Linked DNA regions of Homo sapiens: region 2 is linked to region 1. The links come from fine-mapping of genetic effects on gene expression. A gene starts in region 1. The other region holds a variant in brackets. All regions are shown on one strand. Distances are from middle to middle.

Region 1 (9,777 bases):
AGATAAAACTGGTGGCATTATAAGAAGAGAAAGAGAGGAAAGGGAAGGTGAAGATGTTTGCACAGGAGTGTGACCTTTGTAACTCCACTTCAGCCTCTGATTGGCTGCACAAAGCAACTGATTGCAGGCCACCACTTCATTTACATGATGTGAGCATGAAGTGGCCAGTTGGAAACCCAGAGGGTATTTGGACCCGAGAAGATTCTGTATCGGGCAGCTCCCACATTGTGTAGTATACTTTCGTTTTCAACAAATCCCTGCTTTTGTTCTTTCATTGCTTCATTCTTTCTTTGTTTTGCTGGGCGTTTTGTCCAATTCTTTGTTCAAAATGCCAAGAATCTGGACAACTTGCAGTCAAGACCCTCTACCAGTAACAATATAACAAAAAACTAGTATCAAAACACAATTTTAACAAAACTTTTTAAAATGCCGACAAATCAATAATAATGGACCACAACAAAAGACAAACAGCTCAATAGAAAAGAGGCAACAGAGGCCAGGCACAGCGGCTCACGCCTATAATCCCAGCACTTTGGGAGGCTGAGGCGGGTAGATCACGAGGTCTGGAGTTTGAGACCAGCCTGGCCAACATACTGAAACCCCATCTCTACTAAAAATACAAAAAATTAGCCCAGCGTGGTAGCAGGCACCTGTAATCCCAGCTACTTAGGAGGCTGAGGCAGGATAATCATTTGAACCTGGGAGGTGGAGGCTGCAGCAAGTCGAGACTGCGCCATTGCACTCCTGCCTGGGCGACAGCTCAAGACTGTGTCTCAAAAAAAAAAGCCAACAGGAGAGAAAATCTGAATGGCCAATAAAGTTGTGAAAAGATGCTAAGCCTCACTACTACTCACGAAAATGCAAATTGAAAAAATGACATACCATTTTATATACCTAATCTTGGTAAGAACTAAAAATAGCAAATTTTGGCAGGGATTAGGGCTATTCTCATACACTAAATACAACTACTTAGGAGAGTAAACTTGCAATTATTTTAATATGCAAAGTTGAAGATATGTGTCTTAGTTGTTTCACTTTCATTTTACTCTTTAACAAAAATATCAAGAAACATTCATGAAATTACACTCATTCATCAATGGCAACTGTATATTGCTATGGATATAAGAGTTCAGCAAAATCAAAAGAAGTATCTGTGAGATTAATTAGCTATATGGAATTTACAATAGAGAACATTTTGTATTTTAATATTTTTGTAATAAGATGATCCTTTAAATCAGTAAAAAAATATGTACTTACATACATATATATAAAATATATATAGCTATGGACTGAATTGTGTCCCTCAAAATTCATATGTCAAGACCCTAACCCTCATGTGACTGTATATATTTGGAAACAGGATCTTTAGGAAGTAATTAAGGCTAACTTAAGTTATAAGGATGGGGTCCTAATCCGATAGAACTGGCGACCTTATAAGAAGGGGAAGAGAGGAAGACAGAGATCATTTACCTCCTCCTAAATTGAGCACACAGAAAATGGCAGCTGCCAGCGGCTAAAATGAAACTTACCTTGTTGGCACCTTAATCTTAAACCTCTCAGTCTCCAGAACTGTGAGAAAACAAATTTGTGTTGCTTATGCTACCCACTTTATGGTATTTCGTTATGACAGCCTGAGTTGACTGCCATAGACACACACAAACACACACACTGGCAAGGAGACATATAATTCTAAGAAATGTTAAAAAATGTAACTGCTATAAAAATATGGAGTAAATGATATGGGAAGAGTGCAGAGGAGGTGGCATTTTAGCTCAGCTAGGAGGATGAGTAATCCAGGCTAGAGATCTGAAGGACCTGAACTTGGGCAGTGGCCTTAGAAAAAGAGGTTTGTACTGTTTCAAGAGAACCCCATTTGATTTCTCGGCTGCATCTGACTAGCACCTGGTCTGCCCATGGATACTAGAGGATAACCACACATCTGACAGAGGAAGAGCATTACAGTCTCATGGTTTTCCGACAGGGTGCCAGCTTTCCCGTGGGTCCCCAGTCCACTCCCTCTCCCTAGCCCCTTCATATTTGATTCTCAATCTACTGCTCTTCTCATGCATTTTTTTCTACACTTCTTCAGGTCTCAGCAGATGGCATTCCCCTTCCTACACACCCATACCTAGTTAGTCACCACATCTTAGAAGCCACCTCCAAGTCATCTTTCCTCTTCTTTTCCCCAACAACACTGCCTCAATCCAGAATCTCATCACTTCTTTCCTACACGTATGTGTTAACTTAAAACTCACAAGATCTATATGTTCAGAAAAGGAGACTTTATTTCTTATAAGGAGATACAGCCTGCAAGGTGGCCCTCTCATGGGCTGGGAAGCACAGCCTCCAGCAAGGACCAGAGACAGGCACTTTAAAGGAAGAGGAGCTGGGGTAGGAGCTTTATGCTGAATAGGTTGGCTAAACATACATATTCAACAGGTTACAGGAAGAGCTATGAATATTCATAAAAGTAGTCCTGATACATGCGTATGGAACAACATGCATGTTACATACAACCTGTGTTCACCTTGGGGTGGAGACTTAATATTTAATGTATTACAGTTAGGCTCTGTACCTCAAAAGGTGAAGCAGAGACGAAGGCACACAAGTGCATGGCCTCTGTAAAGTGGCCAGAACCAGCCTATGGTCAGTGGTCTTATCTGGAGAACGTTACTGAAATCAGTCTCTTGTGCAATCAAAGCTGTAGCTATGGTTGGTATAGCAGGGGTTCAGTTAGTGTCTGTGAGCTGGATTAGTTGTAATTGTTTTAATATTGCTTCTCTCTAGGCCAGTGGTTGTTTAGCTGCCAGAGGGAAAAAAAAAACCTCTTGTGGTAGAACATAGTTTATTTTTTAAGTGTAGGGGGTGCATGACTTAACCCTTGCCTGGCATGGCCTTAGGTCCTGTTTATAATTTGGTATCCTATTCCCACAAAGAGTTTGTTCTGTCAATGTTATGATCTTTATTGTAACATTAACATGTTAAACATAGGCTGACTTCCTAGAACTAATTTGAAAGGAAAACCCTAACTTTCCACGCCTAAGTAGTTGCTAGTCAGTTGTGTCTAAACTACAAAAGGGAGGGGGTATAATGAGGCATGTCTGATCTCCTGTCCCATCATGGCTGGGGTCCCCTTGGCCAAGAAAGGGATCTATCCAGTCAGTCGACAGACCCCTTACTTAGGATTTTATTTTTAGTTTATATATATATAAATGGCTTCACAACGAATTTCCTGACTTTTAATTTGCCCCTCTGTTCATCCTCCACCCTGTTGCCAGAGAGAACTTTCTAAATCTCAGGATGTCACACTTCTGATTAAAATTGTTCCATGGTTCTCTGGATTTCAGGGTCAAGTTCAGATCCTTTCCTCAGTACACCCCTGCCTGCCTCTCTAGCGCAAATCTTTCACAATCCCCTGACTGGTACCATCATTCTGGTCACACTCAACTAGTCCTCTCGCTGTCCTGTTACTTCTTGCACTTTCTGTTACTCTGTATGGAGTTCCCTTCCCGTTTTAAGGCAGAAGAATATGGTATGGCGGTAGGGAACCTAATGCCCTTTCTCGCTGACTTCCTAGAACTAAATTGAAGGAAAATCCTTACTGTCCACGCTTAAGTGAATAAAGGGCCAGATACTACTCCCTTTGCAAGCCCCAACCTGTTCTGCGCAGATTTGGGAAATTGAAAGTACCTCTGATTGGTTGCTTTTTGTAACCAATCAGACGTTTGCATAGAAGTGTAACTTTGTAACTTCTTCAGCCTCTGATTGGTTGCTTTGCGCAACCATTCAGACTGATTGCGGGCCACCACTTCATTTACATGAAGTGAACTCCAAGTGGCCAATGGGAAACCTCTAGGGGGTATTTGGACCCGAGAAGACTCTGTATCCAGGGCCCTTGAGCTGCTGTCTCACTCTCCCACACTCTGGAGTGTACTTTCATTTTCAACAAATCTCTGCTTTTGTTGCTTTATTCTTTCCTTGCTTTGTGCGTTTTGTCCAATTCTATGTTCAAAACGCCAAGAACTTGGACACCCTACACCAGTAACACTTTCAGCCAACTTTTTGTCGTTCAAGATCAAGGCCCGGACTTACCTTTTCCAGGAAACCTCCCCAGATCCCTTCTGATTTAGGTACCGTCCTCTGTGCTCCCTGTGATTAAATCAGCCTCTACACATATTACACAATCACTATGCTCTGATTTCCGTTTACTTGTTTCTCTTTTGCAATCTGTGTCATATTCCTCTTTTTATCCGCCGTGCCAAGTATGGAGCCTGTCACATAGCAGGCCTCATAAATACTTATTGAAAGAATTAATAATAGACGTAGAACCAACGGGCTTAGTAAGCCCCTGGAGAAAGGAATCAAAGATGTTTCTGAGGCCTCTATATCAGGAAGTGCGGAAATTTCATGGTTTGAGAATGGGCAGGAAAGATCATTTGTGAGCTGTATTTAATGCAAAAGTTGCTCCCCCATCCTGATTTCTTAGCTCACTGGGCCAATCGGCGGAAGGACAGGTGGGGCTCAAATTAGGAGAAAAAAACCACACTTCCCGTCATGCCTCTGGGCACCGCTCCCGTTTCCCCCTCTTTGTCACCGCCTCTTCCCCACGGAAATGAAAGGAGCACTTCCGGGTTCGGCAATAACCTGGAGCCGGCGGCGTAGGTTGGCTCTTTAGGGCTTCACCCCGAAGCTCCACCTTCGCTCCCGTCTTTCTGGAAACACCGCTTTGATCTCGGCGGTGCGGGACAGGTACCTCCCGGCTGCTGCGGGTGCCCTGGATCCAGTCGGCTGCACCAGGCGAGCGAGACCCTTCCCTGGTGGAGGCTCAGAGTTCCGGCAGGGTGCATCCGGCCTGTGTGTGGCGCGAGGCAGGGAAGCCGGTACCCGGGTCCTGGCCCCAGCGCTGACGTTTTCTCTCCCCTTTCTTCTCTCTTCGCGGTTGCGGCGTCGCAGACGCTAGTGTGAGCCCCCATGGCAGATACGACCCCGAACGGCCCCCAAGGGGCGGGCGCTGTGGTAAGTGCGAGGGCAGGGTAGTCTGGCTTGATTTGCAAGAGTTAGGAAGAAGCAGGAAGCGTTGCGAGTCCCGAGGCGTTCCAGAAGCTCAGTGCATTCAGGAATGGGATTAATGAGTTGGGGTGGGGAAGTTGGAGCGGGGAGAGGGGAGGTCCTGAGCGAAGATATGGAGGGAACTACAAGTTTGTTTCTGAAGCGACAATAGGCTGACCTGGAGCTGGTGGCCCCCACCTGTATGCCATGGAAATTGGGCCTTCTTTCCTCTTCTCCCACCTCGGTCTTTTGTTTACCGTAGGCCCCAAGGTTAAAGATGCCGCATGAGATTGTGCCATGACACACATGATCCATGACACACACCACGTGGAGCACACGAGTGCCGGCAAAGAACGTTTCTGCCTAGTTTATACAATCGTATATAGAAATTATGCAAAGGGAGGAGAGCGGTGGTCTTTTTCTTCTTCACTTTGTTCTTTATGAAGAGAAATATCATTATGCTTTTGTAATTTTTTTAAGATGCTGATCTGGAGCTAACAAGTTATTTGTGCCCGGAGCATTGCTGTCCTCTACTTTTTAATCCATAAGTAGTTAAGTATTATTCTGTGTGACCACAATGCAGTTACCACATTTGGGAAATATTACCTAATATAAAATCCATGTGCAAATTTCCATAATTGTCCTTTAAAGCTGCTTTCTCTTCATCTGGGATTCTGTCAAAAAGCATGCATCGATGGGCTGGCGCAGTGGCTCACTCCTGTAAGCCCAGAACTTTGGGAGTCCAAGGCGGGAGGATCGCTTGAGTTCAGGAGTTAGAGACCAGCCTTGGAAACATAGCGAGACCTCATCTCTACTAGAAATCAAAGAAATTAGGCGGGGCGTGGTGGCTCACGCCTGTAATCTCAGCACTTTGGGAGGCCAAGGCGGGTGGATCGCTTGCGCCCGAGAAGTTGAAGCTGCCGTGAGCCAAGATCGCGCCACTGCACTCCAGCCTGGGTGATAGAGCAAAACCTTCTCTCAAAACAAACAAACAAACAAACAAACATAAATTAGCCGGTCGTGGAGGTGCGCTCCTATAGTCCCAGCATAGTCCCAGCTACTCAGGAGGCTGAGGTGGGTTGTGCTTTTGCGCTCCAGCCTGGGGTGACAGAGCGAGACCCTATCTCAGAAAGCATGCATTCAATTTACTGGCCATATCTTGTTTACTGCCTTTTAATCTAGAACAGTTCTGCCCTCTCCTCCCCTTTTTTGTCTTTTAAGATACTGATAGTTTTCAAGAGTCCAGACATGTTTTGCAGCATATATAGGTACATCTAATATGTATATCTATATTATATATCAGGAAGCATTTTACATTGATTTATCCCATCATTGCAGAATTTGTTTGATTATTTGATTAAGGTGGTGTCCACCAGTTTCTCCATTGTAAAGATACCTTTTTTCCTTTCTAATTAAAAAGTGTTCTTTGGCATGATACTGTGACACTGTGTGAATATTGCTCCTCAACAATTTTTCACCCAAAGATCTAGTGATTTTTTTTTTTTTTTGCCTGATGGTTGGACAGTTTACTCTTAAAAAATGTATACCAATAGACTTTCTTAAACTTTTAAAATTGTATAATATACATAAGTGTGTACAAAATGAAACGCATAGCTCAATGATTTATTGCAGAATAAACAACCTGAACAAATAGATTTTAAGGAGAATGTTCTAAAACTAACTTTCAAGCTGTGGTGCCCAGTCATAATATTTGTTGAGAAACTGAGCACAGTAAGCTGGATTCATCCTTCACTTGATTACTGCTAATCATTTCAGTTTATTGGAGTCACAGTACGGTAAGTCTGGATTTAATGATAAATCAAAGTTGTATTTCATATTTCTGAAATTACCTACATGTGGGTTAAAAAGACATAAAATAAAACAGCCTGGAATTTTACAATGTACTTGGATTTTTCCCTCAAATTTTTTATATTTTTTTTTCAAAAGATAATGAAATTAAATTACATAGAGCAGTGTTTTTAGACTTCAGGTAGACCCATTAGTGAGTTGAGAAGTCAGTTTAGTGTAAACACCAGCTATTTTTAAAAAATTAAATAGAAAATGTCAAAATCCATTATATACAGTAGGGTAAATATTTGTGAAACTTTTGTTTATATATCCATGTATATGGATCTCAATGTTAAAATTACGAAGATCCTAGACAAAAAATGTAAAAGCCACTTTTGAATATAAGATACATTTTAATGAGAAAACACATTTTAAGATTCTGCTTTAGTGGTAATAGACATAAGTATTGGGGGGAAAGCAGCAAAGGAAAGATAGAATGGGAAAAAAATGGGGGAAGAAAATGGTATAGGAAAGTTTAATCTAGGACCACCGAAACTAGGGTAAGACTTGTGGGGGAACATGGAGGTGATAAAGAGAGTGGTGTAATCAGAGAGGCAGGTGGCCATTTAATACCTGTCAGCCACATTTTGAGCACCTAGAGTATGCCAGGCCCTTGTGCATGTAGGCAGATTACAAGGCGAATGAGTTTAGTTGTTACTACTATCATGGTTTTATATTTCTTCTTCAAAAGGTTTCTTTAATCCCAACTGGCTTTATGTGATGTTTTACTCAGCTCTGAGACCTACCTATTCGGATTTGAGATTTTTTGCTAAGAATAGGCATATGGATCTCTTGAGAGCAATTAGTTTTTGTTTAATGTTCTTTTAAAATAGATGAAGCCAATATTGCAAGTGTTAAAGGAACACAGACAATTGTAGTTGAATTTCTGTTAAGATTATTTTTTCTAATTAATTAGTCTTTGCATTTTTTTAAAATGTCAGCTGATATTTTTCTATTTATTTCTGTTTAAGTACTTCTTGTGCTTTCCACATGAAAACTATAAGGTGTTTGGACTTCTCATTAAGCATATACATGAAACATGTAATTGCCTTAGAGTTTTCACCTAATGATCTAAAAAAACAAATGGAGGAAGATTAAAATATTTTGAGTAGACATAAAAACCACACAGTCTTGATGCTTAAAAACATGATTTGCAGGCATAGCTTACAGTATTTTTCTTTTTAAATTTAGCAATTCATGATGACCAATAAACTGGACACGGCAATGTGGCTTTCTCGCTTGTTCACAGTTTACTGCTCTGCTCTGTTTGTTCTGCCTCTTCTTGGGTATGTATTATACATATTGCTGCCTTTGATATTCAATTGTTGAGTCAGTTTATATGGAGTGCCTTTTAGGTGTAAGACTTATTAACCTGTAAAGGGTTTAGGGACAAATAAAATACAAGTTCCAGCCTTCAGGTACTAACAACCTAATAACATTATCAGAGGAATATTTTATATCTTGTGCTTTGTGAAACTAACACATTGAAAATCCAAGGAAAAATTGATGTGTGGGAATGAGATAAGTTCATGTTTTTTTCATTTTTACTTATTACTTGACAGGAAGGTCCTGCTTTATAAAATTCAATTTTATAAATTGATTATAAGAAATTCAGTTGGGCATATATATGAAGTGAAGCTATTAAAACGGTAGAATAAGTTCATGTAATTTTTTTCTATTGACAAGTGATTTAGGTGTTGTGCAATTATGATGCAATTCACAAAGGAGGAAGAGACACTGCAGTTGTTTATGTCTCATGATAACCTCTCCTCTGGTAATTTGCAGGTTGCATGAAGCAGCAAGCTTTTACCAACGTGCTTTGCTGGCAAATGCTCTTACCAGTGCTCTGAGGCTGCATCAAAGATTACCACACTTCCAGTTAAGCAGAGCATTCCTGGCCCAGGCTTTGTTAGAGGACAGCTGCCACTACCTGTTGTATTCACTCATCTTTGTAAATTCCTATCCAGTTACAAGTATCCTTTTCTACCTTGTTAACAATGAAATTGCCAACTAAGCATATAGGAGATCTCTTCTGATTATTTCAGCAATGAAGGCATTCCATGAAGCCTGGGTTTGTTCTCGGCACTTCATTTGAATGAAGATATGTTTAGTGTAAGAATTTCTGACTTTAAAATGTGAAATCTAAACTTTGAAGAGCTGATTTAGGAATTTTAAACTATCTTTGTTCTTGCCTCTTGTAAGCTTCCCTATTAGAATGGATATTTTCAAATTCCCCTTCGAAGCACAACCTTACGCAGAACTTACTTTAATATTTACATTTTTTTCATTTAATTCACGTTTTTGGCAAAGTGTCCAGATGTCTTGCTTTAAAAAAGAGAGGTCCTCAGCTCTTTCCATCTTAACCCCAGTGAACTAGATACAAATGGAATTTAACCAAGAAACAACTTATTTAAGCAGGTAATGAGATAATCAATACAAAGAAATTAATATTTGCTGTGTATAGAGTAGAAAATAAGGACACACATGGATAATCCGTGAAGCTAATGAGAAATAATTCATTTGGAATTTGTATGTTTTCACATTTCAAAGGTGTGTTGTGGGATGATACTGGGTAGTCCATAAAGGAGGGGAAAAATGGGGAAGAGGTTCTATAGTGAACACTAGGTTAAACTTTCTTTTTTTTTTTTTTTTTTTTTTTTGAGACAGAGTCTTGCTCTGTTGCCCAGGCCACCTGCCTCTGCCTCCCAAAGTGCTGGGATTATAGGCGTGAGCCATCACGCCCAGCCAGGTCAAACATTTTTAAATAGGGTTCTTTACTATAGTGGCTTTGGTATTCTAACGTGTGTTGTGAAACTAAGAGAGTTAGTAGGGTTTTTTAAACTTAAATTTGTGGTTGTTTTTTTTCCTGTAGATTATCTC
Region 2 (9,777 bases), 26 kb before region 1:
TAGGTCTCTAAGAACTTGCTCTATGAATCTGGGTGCTCCTGTATTGGGTGCATATATATTTAGGATAGTTAGCTCTTCTTGTTGCATTGATCACTTTACCATTATGTAATGCCCTTCTTTGTCTTTTTTTATCTTTGTTGGTTTAAAGTCTGTTTTATCAGAGACTAGGATTGCAACCCCTGCTTTATTTTGTTTGTTTGCTTTTGCTTTCCATTTGCTTGGTAAATATTCCTCCATTCTTTTATTTTGAGCTTACATGTGTCTTTGCACATGAGATGGGTCTCCTGAATACAGCACACCAATAGGTCTTGACTCTTTATCCAATCTGCCAGTCTGTGTCTTTTAATTGGGGCATTTAGCCCATTTGCATTTAAGGTTAACATTGTTATGTGTTAGTTTGATCCTGTCGTTATGATGCTAGCTGGTTATTTTGCCCATTAGTTGATGCAGTTTCTTCATAGTGTTAATGGTCTTTACAATTTGGTATGTTTTTGCAGTGGCTGGTACTGATTGTCCTTTCTATATTTAGTGCTTCCTTCAGGAGCTCTTGTAAGGCAGGACTGGTGGTGACAAAATCTCTCAGCATTTGCTTATCTGTAAAGGATTTTATTTCTCCTTCACTTATGAAGCTTAGTTTGGCTGGATATGAAATTCTGGGTTAAAAATTCTTTTCTTTAAGAATGTTGAATATTGGCCCCCACTCTCTTCTGGCTTGTAGGTTTCTTCAGAGAGATCCACTGTTAGTCTGATGGGCTTCCCTTTGTGGATAACCCGACCTGTCTCTCTGGATGCCCTTAACATTTTTTCCTTCACTTCAACCTTGGTGAATCTGATGATTATGTGTCTTGAGGTTGCTCTTCTCCTGGAGTATCCTTGTGGTGTTCTCTGTATTTCCTGAATTTGAATATTGGCCTGTGTTGCTAGGTTGGGGAAGTTCTCCTGGATAATCTCCTGAAGAGTGTTTTACAACTAGGTTCCATTCTCCCCATCATTTTCAGGGAAATCAAACGTAGGTTTGGTCTTTTCACGTAGTCTCATATTTCTTGGAAACTTTGTTCATTCTTTTTCATTCTTCTTCCTTTAATCTTGTCTTCACGCTTTATCTCATTAAGTTGATCTTCAATCTCTAATATCCTTTCTTCCACTTGATTGATTTGGCTATTGATACTTGTGTATGCTTCAGAAAGTTCTTGTGCTGTGTTTTTTGGCTCCATCAGGTCATTTATGTTCTTCTCTAAACTGGTTATTCTAGTTAGCAATTTCTCTAACCTTTTTTCAAGGTTCTTAGCTTCCTTGCATTGGGTTAGAACATGCTCCTTTAGGGATATCACCACCGATCCCACAGAAATACAAACTACCATCAGAGAATACTACAAACACCTCTACGCAAATAAACTAGAAAATCTAGAAGAAATGGATAAATTCCTCGACACATACACCCTCCCAAGACTAAACCAGGAAGAAGTTGAATCTCTGAATACTCCAATAACAGGCTCTGAAATTGAGGCAATAATCAATAGCTTACCAACCAAAAAGAGTCCAGGACCAGATGGATTCACAGCCGAATTCTACCAGAGGTACATGGAGGAACTGGTACCATTCCTTCTGAAACTATTCCAATCAATAGAAAAAGAGGGAATCCTCCCTAACTCATTTTATGAGGCCAGCATCATCCTGATACCAAAGCCTGGCAGAGACACAACCAAAAAAGAGAATTTTAGACCAATATCCTTGATGAACATTGATGCAAAAATCCTCAATATAATACTGGCAAAACGAATCCAGCAGCACATCAAAAAGCTTATCCACCATGATCAAGTGGGCTTCATCCCTGGGATGCAAGGCTGGTTCAATATATGCAAATCAATAAATGTAATCCAGTATATAAACAGAACCAAAGACAAAAACCACATGATTATCTCAATAGATGCAGAAAAGGCCTTTGACAAAATTCAACAACGCTTCATGCTAAAAACTCTCAGTAAATTAGGTATTGATGGGACGTATCTCAAAATAATAAGAGCTATCTATGACAAGCCCACAGCCAATATCATACTGAATGGGAAAAAACTGGAAGCATTCCCTTTGAAAACTGGCACAAGACAGGGATGCCCTCTCTCACCACTCCTATTCAACATAGTGTTGGAAGTTCTGGCCAGGGCAATTAGGCAGGAGAAGGAAATAAAGGGTATTCAATTAGGAAAAGAGGAAGTCAAATTGTCCCTGTTTGCAGATGACATGATTGTATATCTAGAAAACCCCATTGTATCAGCCCAAAATCTCCTTAAGCTGATAAGCAACTTCAGCAAAGTCTCAGGATACAAAATCAATGTACAAAAATCACAAGCATTCCTATACACCAATAACAGACAAACAGAGAGCCAAATCATGAGTGAATTCCCATTCACAATTGCTTCAAAGAGAATACAATACCTAGGAATCCAACTTACAAGGGACGTGAAGGACCTCTTCAAGGAGAACTATAAACCACTGCTCAATGAAATAAAAGAGGATACAAACAAATGGAAGAACATTCCATGCTCATGGGTAGGAAGAATCAATATCGTGAAAATGGCCATACTGCCCAAGGTAATTTATAGATTCAATGCCATCCCCATCAAGCTACCAATGACTTTCTTCACAGAATTGGAAAAAACTACTTTAAATTTCATATGGAACCAAAAAAGAGCCCGCATCACCAAGTCAATCCTAAGCCAAAAGAACAAAACTGGAGGCATCAGGCTACCTGACTTCAAACTATACTACAAGGCTACAGTAACCAAAATAGCATGGTACTGGTACCAAAACAGAGATATAGATCAATGGAACAGAACAGAGCCCTCAGAAATAACGCCGCATATCTACAACTATCTGATCTTTGACAAACCTGACAAAAACAAGCAATGGGGAAAGGATTCCCTATTTAATAAATGGTGCTGGGAAAACTGGCTAGCCATATGTAGAAAGCTGAAACTGGATCCCTTCCTTACACCTTATACAAAAATCAATTCAAGATGGATTAAAGACTTAAACGTTAGACCTAAAACCATAAAAACCCTAGAAGAAAAACTAGGCATTACCATTCAGGACATAGGCATGGGCAAGGACTTCATGTCTAAAACACCAAAAGCAATGGCAACAAAAGCCAAAATCGACAAATGGGATCTAATTAAACTGAAGAGCTTCTGCACAGCAAAAGAAACTACCATCAGAGTGAACAGGCAACCTACAACATGGGAGAAAATTTTTGCAACCTACTCATCTGACAAAGGGCTAATATCCAGAATCTACAATTAACACAAACAAATTTACAAGAAAAAAACAAACAACCCCATCAAAAAGTGGGCGAAGGACATGAACAGACACTTCTCAAAAGAAGACATTTATGCAGCCAAAAAACACATGAAAAAATGCTCACCGTCACTGGCCATCAGAGAAATGCAAATCAAAACCGCAATGAGATACCATCTCACACCAGTTAGAATGGTAATCATTAAAAAGTCAGGAAACAACAGGTGCTAGAGAGGATGTGGAGAAATAGGAACACTTTTACACTGTTGGTGGGACTGTAAACTAGTTCAACCATTGTGGAAGTCAGTGTGGCGATTCCTCAGGGATCTAGAACTAGAAATACCATTTGACCCAGCCGTCCCATTACTGGGTATATACCCAAAGGACTATAAATCATGCTGCTATAAAGACACATGCACACATATGTTTATTGCAGCATTATTCACAATAGCAAAGACTTGGAACCAACCCAAATGTCCAACAATGATAGACTGGATTAAGAAAATGTGGCACATATACACCATGGAATACTATGCAGCCATGAAAAATGATGAGTTCATGTCCTTTGTAGGGACATGGATGAAATTGGAAATCATCATTCTCAGTAAACTAGCACAAGGACAAAAAACCCAAACACCACATGTTCTCACTCACAGGTGGGAATTGAACAATGAGAACACATGGACACAGGAAGGGGAACATCACACTCTGGGGACTGTTTTGGGGTGGGGGGAGGGGGGAGGGATAGCATTAGGAGATATACCTAATGCTAAATGACGAGTTAATGGGTGCAGCACACCAGCATGGCACATGTATACATATGTAACTAACCGGCACATTGTGAACATGTACCCTAAAACTTAAAGTATAATAATAATAAAATAAAATAAAAAATAAAAAAATAAAAAAAAAGAACATGCTCCTTTAGCTTGCAGGAGTTTTTTTTACCCATCTGCTGAAACTTTCTTCTGTCAATTCGTCAAACTCATTCTCTGTCCAGTTTTGTTCCCTTGCTGGCAAGAAGTTGTGATCCTTTGGAGGGAAGAGGTGTTCTGGTTTTTGGAATTTTCAGCCTTTTTGCACTGGTTTTTCCTCATCTTCGTGGATTTATCTACCTTTGGTCTTTGATGTTAGTGACCTGTGGATGGGGTTTTTATGTGGACATCCTTTTTGTTGATGTTGATGCTATTCCTTTCTGTTTTTTAGTTTTCTTTCTAACAGTCAGGCCTCTCTGCTGCAGGTCTGCTGGAGTTTGCTGGAGGTCCACTCCAGACCCTGTTTGCCTGGGTATCAACAGTGGATGCTGCAGAACAGCAAAGATTGCTGCCTGTTCCTTGTCTGGAAACTTCATCCCAGAGGGTCACCCGCCAGATGCCAGCCAGAGCTCTCCTGTATGAGGTGTCTGTTGACCCCTGCTGGGAGGTGTCTCCCCATAAGGAGACACGGGGGTCAGGGACCCACTTGAGGAGGCAGTCTGTCCCTTATCAGAGCTCGAGCACTGTGCTTGGTAGATCCACTGCTCTCTTCAGAGCTGGCAAGCAGGAACATTTAAGTCTGCTGAAGCTGTGCCCGCAGTAGCCCCTTCCCCCAGGTGCTCTGTCCCAGGGAGATGGTAGTTTTATCTAGAAGCCCCTGACTGGGGCTGCTGCCTTTCTTTCAGAGATGCCCTGCCCAGAGAGGAGGAATCTGGAGAGGCAATCTAGCTACAGAGGCTTTGTCGAGCTGCAGTGGGCTCCACCCAGTTCAAACTTCCCAGCAGCTTTGTTTACACTATGAGGGGAAAACCACCTACTCATGCCTCAGTAATGGTGGATGCCCCTCCCCCAACCAAGGTCAAGCATCCCAGGTCAACTTCAGACTCCTGTGCTGGCAGTGAGAATTTCAAGCCAGTGGATCTCAGCTTTCTGGGCTCCATGGTGGTGAGATTTGCTGAGCTAGACCACTTGGCTCCCTGGCTTCAGCCCCCTTTCCTGGGGAGTGAAGGTTGTGTCTGGCTGGCATTCCAGGTGCCACTGAGGTACGAAAAAAAAAAAAAAACTCCTGCAGCTAGCTCGGTGTCTGCCCAAATGGTCTCCAAGTTTTGTGCTTGAAACCCAGGGCCCTGGTGGCATAGGCACCCAAGGGAATCTCCTGGTCTGCAGGTTGCCAAGACCATGGGAAAAGTGTAGTATCTGGGCTGGAATGCACCATTCCTCACAGCACAGTCCCTCGTGGCTTCCCTTGGCTAGGGGAAGGAGTTCCC[T/C]GACCCCTTGCACTTCCCAGGTGAGGTGACACCCCACCCTGCTTCAGCTTGCCCTCCGTGGGCTGCACCCACTGTGTAACCAGTCCCAGTGAGGTGGGCTGTGTACCTCAGCTGGAAATGCAGGCCAGGTGTGGTGGTTCATGCCTGTAATCCCAACATTTTGAGAGGATGATGTGGGTGGATGGCCTGACGTCAGGAGTTCTAGACTAGCCGGCCAACATGGTGAAACCCCGTCTCTCCTAAAAATACAAAATTAGCCAGGCGTGATGGCACATGCCTGTAATCCCAGCTACTCGGTAGGCTGAGGCAGGGTAATTGCCTGAACCTAGGAGGCAGAGGTTGCAGTGAGCCGAGATCACACCACTGCACTCCAGCCTGGGCAACGAGAGTGAAACACCATCTCAAAAAAAAAAAAAAAAAAAAGGAAATGCAGAAATCACTTACCTTCTGCTGGGAGGTGTAGGCCAAAGCTCTTCCTATTTGGCTATCTTGCCAGCCACCCCTACAGTAGATTTTTTTTTGAGACAGGCTCTCATTCTTTTGCCCAGGCTGCAGTGCAGTAGAGCAATCATGGCTCACTGAAGCCTCCAGCTCCTGGGCTCAAGTGATCCTCCCACCTCAGCCTCCCGAGTAGCTACGACTACAGGCTCACACCACCATACCAGGCTAATTTTTTTTTTTTTTTTTTGGTAGAGACGTGCTTTCATCAGGTTGCCCAGGCTGGTCTTGAACTCCTTGGCTCAAGTGATCTGCAAAGTGCTGGGACTACAGGCTTGAACCACAGTGCCCAGCTTATTCCTGAACTTTTTAGATTATAATATAGTTAACAGAGTGCTAAATTACTGGAGATTGAAGAATAAGAGTGGAAAAAGAGCATTTGGTAATTTCTTTTTTTTTTTTTTTTTTTTTTGAGACAGAGTCTTGCTCTGTCACCCAGGCTGGAGTGCAGTGGTGCGATCTCGGCTCACTGCAAGCTCCGCCTCCCGGGTTCACGGCATTCTCCTGCCTCAGCCTCCCGAGTAGCTGGGACTATGGGCACCCGCCACCACACCCAGCTAATTTTTGTATTTTCAGTAGAGACGGGGTTTCGCCATGGTCTCGATCTCCTGACCTCATGATCCACACGCCTCGGCCTCCCAAACTGCTGGGATTACAGGCATGAGCCACAGCGCCCGGCCTAGCATTTGGTAATATCTTGATGTTGCTAGTTTTGTTTTAGGAATGTGTTTCCCTCATGAATTCCAGGAGCACAGGTGGTTGGAAGGGCTCTCTTGACAGTGATTTTATAGCTCACCATCAGATCACAGCATAAGACTGAAGGCTTGACTCATCTTTCTTCTCTTGTCCTTAGTTTGTCCATTTGTAAAAGGAGAGAGATTTTGCTGGAGGATATTTGAGGACTCTTTTATCTCTAACATCCCATGAATTGCAAACATTATTAACTACTGTTACCTTTCATGACAGCAGGTAGTTGAATCCAAATTGCATTCTCTTTTCTAGTTAATGTGTTTCAGCCTTCTGCGATTTTGTATTAGACAAGAAATATATGGGACCCTCTTTTTCCTGACATGAGGGAATACAGCTGGTAATTTGCATCTCTCTTGGGGACCTAGATATACTTTCACATCATCTGCTTTCTTCTGAAGACTTGAGGTGTCTGAACAGGATAGTACTAAAGTCACTGTTAAGTCAAGACCAGGCCGAGAAAAACTTCCTTTGTATCTGCAAAATAAAACACACAATGTTTTAATACTAAAGATTTTTAAGCCCACTCTATTGACTAGGAATGGCTTTCTTATTACTACATAGTATATTTTATTTTCTTTCTTTTTTTTTTTTTTTGAGACGAATTCTCATCCTTTCACCCAGGCTGTTGTACGTGGTGTGATCGCAGCTCACTGCAACCTCTGCCTCCCAGGTTCAAGCGATTCTCCTGCCCCAGCCTCCCAAGTAGCTGGGATTACAGGCGTGTGCCACCATGCCTGACTAATTTTTGTATTTTTTGGTAGAAATGGGGTTTCACCATGTTGAACAGGCTGGTCTCGAACTTCTGACCTCAAGTGACCCACCTGCCTCGGCCTCCCAAAGTGCTGGGATTACAGGTGTGAGCCACTGCGCCTGGCTCATAGTATGTATTTTGAAGTATAGAATTGCTGAGAGACCTTTAAACTCATCTCAGCATTTTGCGCGGATGTCTCCAGGACTCTTGCCATTCTGAGCTGAGCACTCCTTGCCCAATTTTTACTCCCCTATCTTCTCCAGCATCTACTCTCCCTCTGACACAGCCCCATACACTACAGGCTTCTACATGGCCATCTTTAATTCAATTCAGCAAATATTCATGGATGCATATGACCTGCCCAGCTCTGCGGTGGGTGTTAGGGATATAATCTTCAATATAATTAGGGACCTACCACATGAATTAACCACAAAGCACTCCTCTGGGTTATGTAAACAAATTGACCTACTGCGTAGGTTCGCTTAACATTGAACACTTAAAAATTAGAAAACCAGTGCCTCAGATTATTTTCTTTTTTTTTTTTTCCACAGTTAATGAAAATTTCCTCACCTTGCTGACATTGGAAACTTTGTCGTGTAATGCTTTGTCTGATTCATGACAATAGAACAATTTTGTCATTATCTACAAGGAAGGACACTTCTATTTAGAATGTTAAGAGAAAACATAGATATTTCTTTCCTTTCATCCAAAAGTGAAAACCAAACTATAAACATATACATTAAAGGAATTGGTGCAGATATGGTTTGAATATATGTCCCCACCAAGTCCCAAGTTGAATTGTAATCCCCAGTGCTGGAAGTTGGGCCTGGTTGGAGGTAGGGCCTGGTGGGTCAGGAGGGTCAATCCCTCATGGTGCTATCCTCCTGATAGTGAGTGAGTTCTCACGAGATCTGATTGTTTATGTGTGTGGCACCACCCCCATCTTGTTCCTGCTCTCACCATGTGAAGTGCCGGCTCCGACTTCACCTTCTGCCATGAGTAAGAGCTTCCTGAGGCCTCCCCAGAAGCAGATGCCAGCACTGTTTCCTGTACAGCCTGCAGAACTGTGAGCCAATTAAACCTCTTTTCTTATAAGTTACCCAGTCTCAGGTATTTCTTTCTAGCAATGCAAGAACGGCCTAATACTGGTGCTAACATACGACATTCATAAACACAAATAAAATAATGTGGTCTGTCAAGAGGCCATTCTGCCCACCCTAGTTCTGTAGATGGGTAATTAGGAGATAGATTTGGCAGAAACATTATTCATCAGAAATCCATGTCAAGTTCATATGCTCTTGGCCTAGCTGGCTCCTGCTCACCAAATCAAAATCTGAATAAAAGTTGGAAAAAAGTTTTAATTTGCCTGGATATATTTCTTCATGAGATAAAAGAAGATATAGCTAAATATTCAATAGCAGAATAATTATATCTGAAATCACCTTGCTTTTCCTGAAATGTATTAAAGCTGCATTTTACAAGAAAGGATTTTGACTTCTAGTTTTGAGGGTCTATCTGAAACGGCCTTTGCAAAGTTATGACTGAGACAGCGAAAGACATCTAACCTAACTGACTCCATCTTTTTTCTAAACTTTAAGCTGTACTTGTTCCTTCCTGGGCATCTGCTGAACTAACTTTGGGAGGAACTTAGTTTATAGTTTAAAACAAAAATGATAACACTCCTCTCCCAAAACAAACCTTCTTGCCTGGGGACAAGAATGCCTTTGTAGGACTAACAAATTAGGCACAAGATTAGAAATTATGGTTTAAGAGTAATGCAGCTGGAGGCTACAAGATTCTGGCCCTCCCTAAACTGCTCCTAACATCAGTGCTTCAGATATTTTGCAGACCCTGCACTTGATGAATCAGCTGGCACACCCAGATCAATAAACTGGCTCATCTGATCTTGTGGTCCCCACCCAGGAACTGACTCAGCACAAGAGGACATCTTCAACTTCCCATGATTTCATCTCCAACTCAACCAATCAGTGCTCTCAACTCACTGGCTTTTCCCCACCCACCAAATTATCCTTAAAAACTCTGATCTCCAAATGCTCAGGGGGACTGATTTGAGTGATGATAAAACTCTGGTCTCCTCCACAGCTGGCTCTGCATGAATAACTCTTTCTCTATTGCAATTCCCCCACCTTGATAAATCCACTCTGTCTAGGCAGCGGGCAAGGTGAACCCACACATGCAATGAACCAGTCTATTTCTACAAGGTTAGATTGTCTAAACTTTCACT

Evidence for each region. PIP is the estimated chance that this variant, and not a neighbour inherited with it, causes the effect.
Region 2: its variant is fine-mapped to the expression of TMEM33 in blood mononuclear cells (TOPMed, PIP above 0.99).

Annotation. Positions count from the first base shown.
Region 1 is chr4:41,930,514-41,940,290 of GRCh38, forward strand. It overlaps TMEM33 (transmembrane protein 33), which reads left to right and starts at 4,916. Exons shown (of 7, transcript NM_018126.3): 1 at 4,916-5,016; 2 at 8,089-8,183; 3 at 8,683-8,870. The coding sequence starts at 4,972. LOC105374426 (a long non-coding RNA gene) reads right to left here and starts at 4,162. Exons shown (of 3, transcript NR_188374.1): 1 at 4,093-4,162. RefSeq lists enhancers at 4,756-4,935, 5,176-5,225, 5,236-5,305.
Region 2 is chr4:41,904,244-41,914,020 of GRCh38, forward strand. It overlaps LOC105374426 (a long non-coding RNA gene), which reads right to left. Exons shown (of 3, transcript NR_188374.1): 3 at 6,204-7,255. Among named protein-coding and RNA genes, the nearest start is that of TMEM33, 26 kb to the right of the region's middle. RefSeq lists enhancers at 4,309-5,200, 8,642-9,777. The variant T/C (reference allele first, on the strand shown) is at 5,534.